Regions from separate parts of the Homo sapiens genome. Here region 2 is linked to region 1. Evidence: fine-mapped QTL for protein levels in blood plasma. Region 1 holds a variant in brackets. A gene starts in the other region. All regions are shown on their forward strands.

Region 1 (2,911 bases):
AAAAATCTAAAATAGAGAAAGAAACTAACTTTTAATATTTAACACATGAATTATTGACTCTGGGCCTTCATTTTATCCTTTTGTCAGACTTTCACAAAATTCACATAATATGTGTGGCTTCCCAAGAGGGGTTCCACACTTGAAGAGTTGAAGGTAGCTCCTCATCCATTTCTTTGCTTCTAGCCTATTGCAATTTATTGCAGTTTACGTGTGGCTAGTTATATGGATTTAAGGCTGATATAACCGAAATAATAGAATATTTACACTCATTTTGTATTGAGATGTAGAGTGATGTGAAAACATTTTGAGACACACAGATATTTGCTGGCTACTTCCTACAAATTTCTGAAAATGCTGTTAAGTTTATAGAGGGTTACACATTTTTCTTTGTAACATGAATTATTCTAAATTTGTTGAACTTTATTCGTGATGACAAATGTCTGACAGTAGTATGAATCCTACTAGTTATTTCAAAAAAGAAACATACTGTCACATCAATGTAAGGGTATTATCATAATAATGGATGAGAAAGTAACTTTTTCTCCTTTTTTTTGAGGACGGTTATACTGTGGAGAGATGGTTTTTAAAAAATATGTTTGGGAATTTTTCTATTGTTGCTTTTGTTGATGGGAACAATGTAAATGCAATCCTACAAAAACTCTCCTATCAGCTCTATTAAAACATTTGAGGGAAGAAATTTCTAACCTTTAGAAAAATATTTCAAATAAAGATTTTCAATAGCTTTGAACCCTTTTATTAAAGTTTACAAAATGATACCTGGTTAGCTTACAAGAACTAATATTAGAAAAAAGGAAATACACCAATCAAATCTCAAAGACAACCTTTGCCACTTGGTGAATGTGATTGAAAACTATTTGAGTTAGTAGGCACAGCTAATGATATGGTTCTTTCATTTTTTATTTTTGTGAGGTGTCTTGTCTAGTTACAACCACCAATAAAATTACTGTTGAAATAAACTGGACTTAGGACAAGACTTTTGAATCACTGTGTCACAAAGAGTTTAAGGATTTTTGAAAATATTTAGCATACTTAATTACATTTTCTCACTAAAACTATTTTCTTTGAGCTGTACAGTAGATAAAGTACTATTAAAAATAATTTTAGTGAGAAAAACATTTCTGTATCATTAATAAATAAGTCAATTTAATCTTCATTTTAAATATATAATCTTTTATTTTATCTTTATATAATTTGTCCTTTATTACAAGCTTTGACTGTTTCATACTATATTTATATCTGTTTATAGTACACATGTATCATTTATAAACAAAGATATATATGTGTGTGTGTGTACATACATATATACTTACATACACACATACATATATACAAAGCATGCAAGCTTTGCTTTAAAATTGATTAGGGCATATGGTTTGGAAAAGTTAGGAGCCCAGTGCAAAATTTCTGCAGACACCCTGCTCATCTAGATCTTGGTTCTAATTTCCTCAAAGTTCTCTTAGTTTATTTATATCCAAAAATGTACTGTGGGGAAATGCATCTCAGGGTTGCTTTTATTTATTGCTGTCATTACTTTCCTGAAGAAGAAAATCCAATTTGACTTTCTAAACTAGAATTTCAGTTTGATGGCATGACACACTAGACCTGGGAAGGTTCCTGGAAACATGAGTAGCAGAAAGTAAAGGAAATAAAGGAGAAGTAGTAGGACTTGTATTTTTACTCACTCCATTGACCATCAGGAGAATAAGGCCGTTGTCAGCTGGTGTT[C/T]GAACTTCTATGTCAAAGCGAGTCACCTGACCAAATTTCCCTCTCCTTGTGATGTCTCTCACCACGGCATAACCGGAGCCATCGAAGAAGTAACTGGCAGCCCGACTCTGAGTGAAGGCCAGCTTATCTCTGAAATGGAAACACAACGGTCATTTGAACACTACAGTTTCTGTTATGCTTTTCAAGTGAAGCCCTTTTAACCCATTCTTCTAACATCTTCTGTGGACCTTACAACATTTAAATGAAGTCCTGTTGTCTGCAAGGAAGAGATAAAGAGGTATTTGTAGGTATGTTAAATGGATTGTTTTCTTCTGTATCCTGTGTGCTAAGACAACTGAAGTCTCCAGGGACACCCTAGTCTCTGGAATCCTTAATCAAGGCTGCAAACAAGTTGTTTAACACTTCATACTTGGGCATGCTCATCTATGATAGAGAACAGGTGAAGAGTTTTTTGCAGGTATGACTTATGTAGTTTCAAAACTGGCTTCCCCAAAGAAAAGTTTGAGAACCTGAATATTGACTCATACTTGTTCTATCTGCTGCTCTTGCATGAATATCCAAGTCTTTAGTACTCTTAACTGTCTCTTACCGGGCACATGGCACTGATGTGGAGGGGTCCATATTATAGATGTGCTTAAAGTTGTACAAGCTGATCACATCATTATTCAAAGTGGCCAGTTCCAGGCAGCCAACAAAGCCAGGCAGGTTTAAGCTGGTAGGGAGCTATGCAATAGAAAAAGTAAAACCACTTGTCTCATGGTCATATTTTACTCAGACATCACAGAACAGACAATGCAACTAATAGTAGGTCAAGGAGACCTACCCCTTTGTGGAAATATCTTTCTAGACCCGAGTGTGTTTATGCCAAATCATTTAGATATGGCGTAACTTGTCAGTTGTGCAAATCTTAGCAGAGAAAGTGGGATTTACTGAGCATAGATTATGTGCTGGTCATAGGCTGTACAGTGAATTCATGACAAAAATCAGTCCTTGCGCCAGCTTTGTTAGGTAGGTATTCTTGTTCTCATATAATGAGAGGGAAAATAATTCTCAGATAAATTCCAATTATGTGCCCATAACTAGTAATAATAGTCCTGAAATTGGAACCCTAGATCAACTTCCCATCTTCTTCGACCTTTCCTTTATCCCCCTTCATCAGATTTCA
Region 2 (2,911 bases), not on the chromosome of region 1:
GGTCCTTGGAGCCAAGCAGAGATTGAGCAGAGACTGAGCACCGAACAGCTCCAGCTGAGGCTGGTAGAGGGGCAGAAAGGGGCAACCTAGGCTCGGGGCCAAGAGGAAGGCCCCTTTCCTTCCAGGCCCCCTCCTCTCCGGGTGAGCTCAGAGTGTGGGAATGCAAAGCATGTGCCAGGCTGGGGCACACAGGCCCTTTTGTGTCACCACCGCCAGGGGAAGACACCACTGCTCTATCCTCTGCCCTCCAAAATCCCTGCCCTCACTCCCCAGCGGGCTAACTCTGGCGGAAGTTCCGGTCTCATGCTCCCTCAGCAGCACCTCCATGAACACTCCGCACACACCCGCGGACCCCACCCTAGGTAGCTGGTAAGGATGGAGAGGTCAGAGTCTCCCCCAGGGGTCAGGGCAAGGGCCAGGCAGTGGGCAGGAGTGACGTCAGTGGTGCCAGCGTGCTGCCAGCCCTGTGAGGAGGTGATGTCACTCGACACCATCTGCCTGGGCTCTGGGATGCCTGGGTTGTTACCTTGGCTCTCGGACAAGGAGGGCAGGTGGAAGGTGGGGTCTCCAACCCAGAGCCTCAGACCCCTGACTCCTCCCAGAGCTAGAAGAGCAGGGCAGGGTGGAGCTGGACCGGCTGCAACTGTGGAGCCCGATTTAGCCCTTTCCCCAGAAATAAAGTCAGCCTGGGAGGCAGTAGCCTGGAATACCCCAGGGACATGGTTGGCACTGGGCATGAGGCCAGCGAGCTGGGTATTGCCTAGCCCTCCCCTTCCCCAGCCGGACAGCGGCTGGGACGGCGGAATGGGAGCCAAGAGAAACACGCGACACCGCTGCGGGCCATACAAGGGCAGCGTGGACCCGAGAGCGCCCTGCTACCAGGCGGATCCGGAGAAACGCTCCGAGGTGCCCGGGCGCACTTCCCACCTGAATGTGGTCCCCAAAATAAGCCAGCGGGCGCTTCCAGTATGGGAATCCTCCATCCCTCATCTCTGTCCCCTATGATCCCATCACTCGGGGAGGCGCGAGGCGACCCACACCGCCCCGCAACCCCTGCCAACGCCCAGCTCGGGCGGGAGCCGCCGAACCTCCCGCTCTCGCTCACCTCCAGCCTGGCGTGATGCCCAGGCAGAAGGGGGAAGGGGTGGGTCGGCGCACCCCCTCCAGCGAAGGAAGCTGCCTTTTCCAGCAACAGGCGGGCGCGGAATTCAGGCTTTGAGGATGCGCCCCAGCTGCGCCTCCTGCCCGGCTTCAATTGCGGGCCCCCAGAGTGAGCACCTCAGGGACCACCCACCCCCCAGCACCCCGAAAGGCTGAGCTCCACCCCTTCTCGTTCCCAGAAGCAGCCTCCTCCCCGCCTTCCGAGTGCTGCTCCCGGGATACTCTAGAATCCCGGCTGCAAACTGGCTGCAAAGAAGAGTTGCTCGCGCGCAAGGCGCCCGGGGATCGGGGACCCAGGGAGGAGGCTCGTCCTCCCAGACGCAACGCCCCGACCCCGCCGCGCCGCTGGCTCTGCTCCCTGGCACGCTCCACCGCAGACCCCTAGCCGGGGCGCGGCCCCCCTGCGAGCGAACTCACCCGCGACGCGAGGACAGCAGCAGCAGGCGGCGAGCAAGAAGGCGCAGACCAGCCTGGGAAGCCCCATGCTTCCCGGCCGGAGGGCGAGAGCCAAGTGAGCAGCTCGAGGCTGCCGGGGGCTGACGTCAGGGGGGCGGGGGAGGGGGCCCGGAGCGCCCGGGCCCGCCCCGCCCCGCGCAGCCCCCAGCCCCCGCCCCGCGCGCCGCAGCCCTAGGGGGCGGGCCCCGGCGCCGCCAGCCCGGGAGCTGCGCCTAGGAGCGCTGCCGGAGGTAGGCCAGAGCCGGACTCCCAGGCTCCTGGCTTGGGAAGGCTGAGGGGGTAGTGACAGGTGTCTCGGGGTCTGACTGGCCGAGGTGGCAGCGAGGAGAAGCTGTCCCGGATGCCCGGAGTCGCCCCGGGTCGAAGCCAGCCAGGCTCACCGCTGCTCAGCCCCTGCCAGCCAATGTAGCCCCTAGGGGACCTCCTGGGGGAGGAGCAGTAGCGGACCTGGTCCTCGGTGTCCCCAAGGGGCCTCCCACTTGGGCTCCCCTCCCTTGCCACAGAGAATTCAGGCCGGCCTCTATCGCTTCCCAGAACGATTGCACCACTGCCGCTGCCGCCGGCCTGACACTGCCTCAGCCTCAGTGCTGGCAGCTTTGGGAGAAGAACCCTGCGCCAGTCCCACAGACCCAGAAGTACCTGTATGGGGAGTGCAGACGATGCCTTCTGGGCTGTCCCTTCAAACGCAAGCTCCTGCAAGTCTAGCCTTTGACCAGAGAAAGGAAGGAGGGGGCTGAATTCGCAGGCCCAAGGTGTTCACACTTGTCCAGACCTGGGCCTTGAGAATCATGTTTCTTCCCTCTTCACTCTGGAGCCTACCCTGGAACTCAGTTTCCCCTCACCTAAGAGAAAGAAACAGGGAGAAGAAAGAGTTAATGGGCGAGGGTCCCCAGCCTGACCCTGCAAACCTGTTGCTGTTCCTGATGATTGAAAGGATCCCGGCAGCGCTGATCTTCCCCCACCCCATGTCTTCCCCAGCCCTATTGATTGTGGGTCCATAGCTGAGGGAAGAATCAAATCAGACCTGCTTGGGTGGGGAGCTCTGCAGCTCCCCTTCTCCCAAAACGCCGGCTTCTCCCTGGGTCTTCTGGCCTCTTGAACTAAGGCTCTAGGGAGGGGGAGGTGCTCTTGCCTCACTCTGACCCCAGCAGCCTGGCCTCAGAAAAGGGGTCCACATCTGCTGGCGCGCCTCCACCAGGGAGTGCCAAATAGGGGCCTGGATTTGGGTAGAGGTCTGTTGCCCAGCGGGGCCACCCCTTTGCTCGCTGGGGGAGGTGGAGGGTGAGCCAGCAAA

Which allele goes with the higher level. Alleles are on the strand shown, and positions count from the first base shown. The strength of an association depends on the size of the effect and on how common the allele is.
With allele C in place of T in region 1, the plasma level of the protein whose gene starts at base 1,674 in region 2 is lower (moderate association).

What was found. PIP is the chance, under the fine-mapping model, that this variant and not a neighbour inherited with it causes the effect. The UK Biobank Pharma Proteomics Project read protein levels with antibody pairs (Olink). The fine-mapping took linkage between variants from a reference panel, not from the people measured, so its PIPs are less certain.
Region 2: it holds the start of MCAM, and the variant in region 1 is fine-mapped to the plasma level of the MCAM protein (UK Biobank, PIP above 0.99).

What each region holds. Positions count from the first base shown.
Region 1 is chr6:112,137,417-112,140,327 of GRCh38, forward strand. LAMA4 (laminin subunit alpha 4) reads right to left here. Exons shown (of 39, transcript NM_001105206.3): 23 at 2,336-2,469; 24 at 1,704-1,875. All of the region lies in intron 1 of LOC107986633 (a long non-coding RNA gene), which reads left to right. Among named protein-coding and RNA genes, the nearest start is that of FAM229B, 51 kb to the left of the region's middle. The variant C/T (reference allele first, on the strand shown) is at 1,747.
Region 2 is chr11:119,315,457-119,318,367 of GRCh38, forward strand. MCAM (melanoma cell adhesion molecule) reads right to left here and starts at 1,674. Exons shown (of 16, transcript NM_006500.3): 1 at 1,579-1,674. The coding sequence starts at 1,645. RefSeq lists an enhancer at 1-360 and a silencer at 1,953-2,012.